2 linked regions of the Homo sapiens genome follow. Changing the gene in region 2 together with the main gene of any one other region gives a genetic interaction. Each region holds a gene or a part of one and is shown on either strand. Other genes may lie near its edges.

Region 1 (3,752 bases), on a different chromosome or scaffold from region 2:
CCAAGGCTGGTGGATCACCTGAGGTCAGGAGTTCGAGACCAGCCTGACCAACATGGTGAAACCCCATGTGTACTAAAAATACAAAAATTAGCCAGGCATGGTGGCACAGTCTGTAATCCCAAGCTAGTCAGGAGGCTGAGGCAGGAGAATCGCTTGAGCCCGGGATGGGGAGGTTGCAGTGAGCTGAGATCACGCCACTGCACTCCAGCCTGGGCAATAAGAGCGAAACTCCATCTAAAAAAAAAAAAGAAGAACGAAAAATGCAGGCAGGGGAGATGCCTTGAACAGCCCATTGAATTGAGTAAGATTAACTCCATCCTCTGCACCTGAGGTCCAAAATGAACTTTAAGGACTCATACATCTAATAAACATCACACCACTAAAGCTAAATGTCATCCTACCCCTCTCACGAAGAAAACACAAAACAAGCTCACTACTTTGAAGATTTTCGATGCTAAGTGTGTTACATGGAGAAACCACCCAACTTCCTTTAACTTCAAAACGGAACATATATCAAAGATAAAAGGAAACTGTAAGATACAAGGGTCACTACCCCTAAAATTTAAGTTAAATTCTTACAGGGATATTCAAACCAAGCCAAGCCCAGTCCCTTTGATTCACCCAGTCACCGAGATCTTTTAAAATTTAGTTACAGGTGGCAATAAGAAAAAATAAAGGGCATACTCTCATTTTTCTCTTAAAGTATTTCTCTGAAACACTCTTAAAATAAGGATTGGCAGTAAAATAAATGAATTTTCTACCATAATCCCTAATTGACATTAATAATAAAGCATTAATTATATTTATAGTGGTTCGTTTTCCCAATTTATAATAACTAATATGTATTGTTCTGGATGGAACTAGACAGTTTTTTATTCTTTGTAATAATGAGGGCATTTCAACACATTATGTTCACTTTTAAGCTGACCTTCATACAGCCACGAGTTTGTTTATAAAGCAAGAAGCAGAGTCAAACTAAAATTTTTGTTTTACAAAATGTCAAAAACTCAGTTAATTTCTTTCATACAACAGGCAATTCCTGCAACCTTGCCCATAAAATCCTAAGACATAAACACCTGAAAGAGTCAGTTTGCCTTTTTTTGTCTCATGGCAAATATTACAGTGAGAGGAAGCTATAGCTGCCACTGACCGAACCCTAAATTCAGCAGCATCAACAATATCAATGCAGCCTGTCATGCGACGGTAGGTTCCCTAGTTTCAGACTATCTAACCCAGCAAATTCTGCCTCAAAAAGTGACATACTAAGTGGGTAAAAAACATAAAACAGCAATTTTTGAATCAAAGTTAGGGTAGTGCTGACTTCAAACATAGCTTCAGAACGCTGGGACCCATCACTAAGTGAATGGGAGTGACTGGCATCCGCTCAGACAAGTACTAGGGCAAAGGGATAAGAACTGGCAGATGGCATCTCAAAAATGAAATTCTAACAGTGGTGTCAGTACCTTGGGCATGGGCAAAAATAGTACCAACAGGAAAGGAAAGACTATATGAACCCCAAAAGCAAGCACATCGCCCAAAATTGCTGTCAATAACCACCAACGATCATCACCAATCACCTGATCCCGTTTAGATTGCACCTGGGAACCAGGCAGTCCCACCTCAAGACCAAAGCAACTGTCACAAGTAGCAAATATCACTCACCAGGCAAGGGAGCCACAAAGACCCCCGGCTGGCCCCCACGCTCTTGGTAACGGCGCCTACTTTTGGGCCCGACCTGCAGGCTTGCAGCCGCAGCGATCTGACAGCTAGCACCGCCCCCGGCTAGAGCGGGTTTGTGACCTTTGACCCCTGACCCCTGACCTCCACGGTGCAGGAACATCCCGCCCTGTGGTTTCCCATGGAGAAGCTTGAAAGCCCCCTTACCTGTCACAGCTTCATCTCATGCCGCGATGTAGCCTATCAGACCGCCGGTGGGCGCCCCAGCCAAGGAGGACAAGGATAGGGCGGAACTACGGAGGATGCGGGGTGCGTAGATCCTGCTGGGATAATCCGTGGGGCGGCAAGCGCTATACAGCCGCCGTCTCCCCAGTGATACTGCAAGGTGCCGGTGCCGCCGCCGCCGCCACTGCAGTAAATCAGCTGACACCAGCCCCAACTGCCGTGACTTTCGCTGCAACTGTCGCAAAAATGAGGGGGCGGGAAAGACTCACCATTTCCCTACTTGCAAGGCCTAAGCCGGCGCCGAGAGAGCCAGCCGCGTTACGATGGAGACCGAAAGTGGAGAAAAGGCCAGCTGTGGGCAAGGAGTGCACGGCCGCCATCTTGGTTGTGGGAAGTCTCGTCTAGGCTGTCCTCTCTCCAGTTGGGAGGACCAAGATGGAGCGAAGGATGAAGTAGCAAGTGCACGTCTTTCTTGGGAGCAGGATGTTGCGCAAGTTTACACTTCTGACCCCATCACACTGCTTCCCACTGAGATGCAAGAGGTAGGGAATTCCCTAAACACTGGAAAGTATGTTGGATGCTGGAAAGCTAAAAAGAATGACAAATGTCCCCCAAGATAGATAAGCTATAGTATAGTGCAGGATGAGAAATGCCAAATAAGGAGCAAGGAAGAAAAGAGATGAATTATTTCTAGGTTGGGGTAAGGAAGGATAATCACATTAGGTCATATGGAAGTCTAGAAAAATTGGTCAGATTTGGAATAATAATTGGGAAAGGAAAACAACTTTGTCACCAGCATTGAAATGTAAAACATGAATATATGCAATAAATAGAAAGTTAAATTTGGAAGAAATACAAGGGACGTGAAGTAGGTGAAGTGGGAAAATGTGGTATCAGGGCTTAGCTGTTTCTGCTCCGTGAGCGGCTCCTTTAACAGGCAGTCTATGCCCTGGAGCTCTCTTGTGGGTTGATAGAGACTTCATCACATTCGGCCTAGACCAGGTAATAAAAAAGTAACATGGAAAAATAGAATAATGTAGATAACAAGAGGCTTTTAGTGGCCATATAAGCTTTTTGGTCTTTATTCCAAAGACAATGAAAAGTAATTGAAGACTTTTGACTAATAAATAGTGTAGCACTTTTCCTAACCACATGGTATTCAGGTTTTTAAAATTGCTTTACAACAAATTATCACAGTCTTAGTGTCTTAGTGGCTTAAAGCAACACATATGTATTGCCTCACATTCCATGGGCAAGGAGGTCAGGAACAGGTTAGCTGAGTCCTGTGCTCATGCTCTCACAAGGCTACAAGTGGATGTCAGCCAAACTGCAATTCTCATCTGGAGGCTCAACTAGGGAAGAATCTGATTCCAAACTCCTGTCAGCTCATTCAGTTCCTTGTGGCTGTCTGACTAGGGGCCCTGGCTTCTTACTGGCTCTGAACTGGAAGTGGCCATCAGGTCCTAGCAGCCACCCACAGTTCCTTACCACATGGGCCTTACTAAAGGCTCTCTCGCAACATGGCAGCATACTCCTTCAAAGCTAGCAAGGAGAATCTCTCTACTGAGCACAAGAAAGGAGTCACACAGATATAGATACAGCCATGGATATGGACATGGACATAGATATGGAAATGGATGTAGATGATAACCTAAATTAGGGAGTGACAGCCATCACCTTTGCCATATATTATTGGTTAAAGTAAGTCACGGGTTTTATCTGTACTCAAGGAGAAAGGATTATACAAGAGTGTGACTTATCGGGGTCACTTAAGATGGGCCAGCCACAAATATTAATTTGGCAGCAATGTGCCATGTAAATCAGGTGGGAAATACAGGGAAGCAAGGAGA
Region 2 (3,652 bases):
GAATATTCTGAATATAAAGACTAATCTGCTTTATAGTTATGAGCCTGTCCAGGATTTTTTTCCCCCACCTTTGAATGGGAAACCTAGTTAGAGGATAAGTTAGAGAATAAGAGCCCCATAGAAATTTGGTTGTTTTTAACCATTATATATTTTGTATTGTGTGAAAAGTGTTTATGTGTTTTATTATTTTTGTCATGCTTTCTCTGTTCTGCATGCTTCAGATGTGTTTCCTAACTTGATTGAGAACTATTCAGGAGCAATTGCTTCTTGCTTAAGAATGAGTTAGCATCTAAAGTGAACTTGTTAGGTGGAAACTGTGAATAGCTAAGATTACCTTTGAGAATCCCTTAAAAGGACATCAAGTTGGCATAACATGCTGTCTCTCAGCATGTCCTACACAGCCATGTTTTTCATCCTGACTTGGAATGTATCACAGTTTCTTTAGATGAACTCCCAGTGAAAAAGTTGCTCTGTGTTTGGTCACCACCTTGTATGTTTTTTAAAAAAAGAGAAAAAGTGTTAAAAACTAGAATCATGCAATGCAGCAAGATGCTCACATTTTGAGATGCATGTGGTGATTGAAACAGACTAAAAGAGCAAGATTCTTGTTGCCCATCCCCCATTCACTCTGGAGCAGATATTCAATACCTGAAATGGTAAGCAGAATCTCTAGTAATTATTGTTTTTGTCTGTCTCTGCCTTCCTTTTTTTGGCCTACAGTGTTTGGTAGATTCAAGAAAGTTAAATGTGCCTAGACTCTGCTGTATGAACCAATTGATGGTAATAAGGTTTAATACAAGTAAGAAATTAAATTATCTTTAGGATTTATCATGAAAAAATCACCCCCTTTTGAAATCGCATAATGGAGGATTATAAATATGTGTCGACGATGGTTATTTTCTGAGTTCTGATCTTGCTAATGTTAACAATATCACAACTCAATTTTTAAAAAAGGCACAATAAAATATAAATATTCTTATTCACTGTTTAATATTTATTCACTGTTCATTTTTCAAGGTGTGGTTTGTGGGTACAAGATTCTATTTTAAGTACTGAAATCTTAAATTCTAATTTTACTCCATTTACAACCTACTCCTTCATGTCAGTGTTTTTATCCCTTAATCTGCAGTATATCACTTTGACTATTTTTGTCCCTTTAATAATTCCCTAGTATCCATAATTGCCAGTAACTAAGTGCTGACTTTAAACTTATTAGGAAATATAGTTTGGCTGTTTTGGAGATCTTTTCATATTTTTATAACGAAAAAATACAGTAACTATCTTTTCCTAAAGTTGCTATCAAGCAGTCAGACCATCTTTAGAGTTTAGAAACACAGGTTTGGTTTAAGAAGAATAAACATTACAATTTTAAATGTAGTACTTCAGAATAGTGTGTACTGGAATTCTAGCTCACTGATTATTGGTTAATATCATCTTGCAAAAGGAAATATGCTACCATCAGTTTAGTTTTCTCCTTATTTGGAATGTAAAAAAGGACAGTTACATTTTTAAGACTTTCTTTTTACCTGTACGTATGTTTAATTAACAATTTAAAGATTTGTTCAGATAGCCACAGCCAGTACTTCTGACGAACAGAAGTAGGCTTTTAGGGTTTCAATCCTTTAGAAATTATATTTGTTCTGGGGCATTAAATATTTATTATTAACAGAATTTTTCATTTATATATTTGTCATTTAGTGGACCATATTAAATGTGGAGTAAAAATTAGTAAGGTAAAAATTGATATGTAGGCCAGTTTTTCTTAATCCTTATTCACTGTGATCTTACCAGAAATTTTAACTATGAATGTTATGATTCATCTTTAAGACCTCCTAGTTGAACATCTTTTCCTTTCATCTAGGCCTAAAGTTAAGCACTTAATAACCCTTATCATTTAGGCTTCATTGTCCCACTGCCTCTGTGTTACAAAACCTTAACCCTGGTTCACACCAACCTTTGTTCCTATGCCAGATTATTGCCACCTTAAATTGTTTGCAGTATGAGCTGAGCATTCATTGCTACCTGAAAAATATTTCTTCTATTATTGTGGGTGGTAAGTTCAGACTTTTGCCTCTGTGTTAGAAAAAATCCCACCTCATCACCTGTTTGAACAGTCTTAGCATATCTCAAATAAAATCAGAGTCATTTTGGTGGAACTCCCTTTTACCATGTTTTTCTCTCCTCATTCACCCTCTGCTTAACCATGTTATAACCATATGCACTTCCACTCATCCTTCCTTCCGTACTCCTTCATCTATCCAAGTCTCTCTAGACCTATGCTTTTGTTGTCATTCTCGCCTGCATTCTCAGAGACCCTACTCCATCAGTCACAGTCTTTCTCCTGATTGCTCAACTTTTCCTTCTCTCTTTGCTCTCCCCTGATTATGATAAAATCATGATCAACTCTATCCTTTATTTTCAGAAACTCTTAAACCACATTATTTCAGTATTTCCTACTTTTTCTCCTTTTCTTTCTCATTTTCTTGAAAGAATAGCATGTACCCATTTGTAGGGTTTTTTGTTTGTTTGTTTGTTTTTTCCCTATTTTCTCCCTTTGCGTTTATCCTTCAACTCACTGAGATTTAGCTTCTACCATTTTTGGAAACTAGGTGTGCTAGTCATCTAGGACCGCAGAGTGGCTGAGTACAGTGGACTGTATCATGTCATTTGAAACTTTCTTTTCTGTTGTCATATCACTTTTCCATATGACAACTGATTTGTGGATCACTTTCTTAGAACTCTGTTCTTAACTCTCTACTGTCTACTTCCAAGAGGCCTTTAGGGGTGGAGTGCATGAATGGGCATTCATGCAGCTTTTGAAATGGAGTACAAAATGTTGTTTATATGTATGTATGTCTGTTTTCTTAGGAAGAGGGTCCATGGGCTTATGTATATTTGACTTAGACAATATTATGTTCATCCATGGTTTTAACTATGATGAAGTGATAACATGAAATTCTGGATTTCCAGCCCAGACCTCTGATAGGAAATCCAAAACCATATGCCCCACTTGATAGCCCATAATTAAAGTTTTCCAAAACAGAATTATCATTCCTCTTCCTGATGCCCTCTATACATATAGACTCCTCCACTCTTCAACATTTCCTAAGCCAGAAATTTGAGTGTCCTGCTCCTTTCTCCTTCTTTAAATCCTATTCCACATTGATTCTGTCTTCCAAGTATACTGATCTCCTAAATCCATCCTTTTATGTGTTTCCCTGGCTTAATTCTATCCTCTCTGTCTTTCAGTTGGTTTATTGAAATAACTTCCCAACTGGTTTGCCTGTGTCCTGTTTGACCCCACCTTGACAGTTCACCACATGTAAATCTGAGTAATTTTTCTGTAACATGTTAGTATTTTTTCAGTGATTCTGATTATCAGAATGAAAAGTGCCTAATTTGAGACATGTTGTTTGGTCTCTGCTTACATTTTTAGGTCTTATTTCATCAGTTTCCAAATGCACATTCTGTAGGGGTTTTAAAAGTAATTAAGTCTGTTATTTTGGCTTTCCCCCTCATAGTTTACCTCTTGTAATAACCTTGTCTAGGTCCTTTAAGTCTCAGCTCAAGCTCAGCTTCCTTCTTTATATCTAGTGCCCTCCCACCCCTTTAGATGCTCCTTCCCTGTCTTCCTACAGTTATAGCTGCATAA

Evidence for each region.
Region 1: changes in ASCC3 (region 2) and WDR7 together harm fitness more than expected from each alone (negative genetic interaction), as found in Homo sapiens cells (one large-scale study listed by BioGRID).

The regions. Positions count from the first base shown.
Region 1 is NC_000018.10:56,649,709-56,653,460, reverse strand, and holds the start of WDR7 (WD repeat-containing protein 7), read right to left. Parts: upstream 2,103-3,752; 5' UTR 1,885-2,102; intron 1,765-1,884; exon of another isoform or gene 1,663-1,764; intron 1-1,662.
Region 2 is NC_000006.12:100,874,745-100,878,396, reverse strand, and holds part of ASCC3 (activating signal cointegrator 1 complex subunit 3), read left to right. Parts: intron 1-3,652. UniProt on the Homo sapiens protein: ATPase involved both in DNA repair and rescue of stalled ribosomes. 3'-5' DNA helicase involved in repair of alkylated DNA: promotes DNA unwinding to generate single-stranded substrate needed for ALKBH3, enabling ALKBH3 to process alkylated N3-methylcytosine (3mC) within double-stranded regions.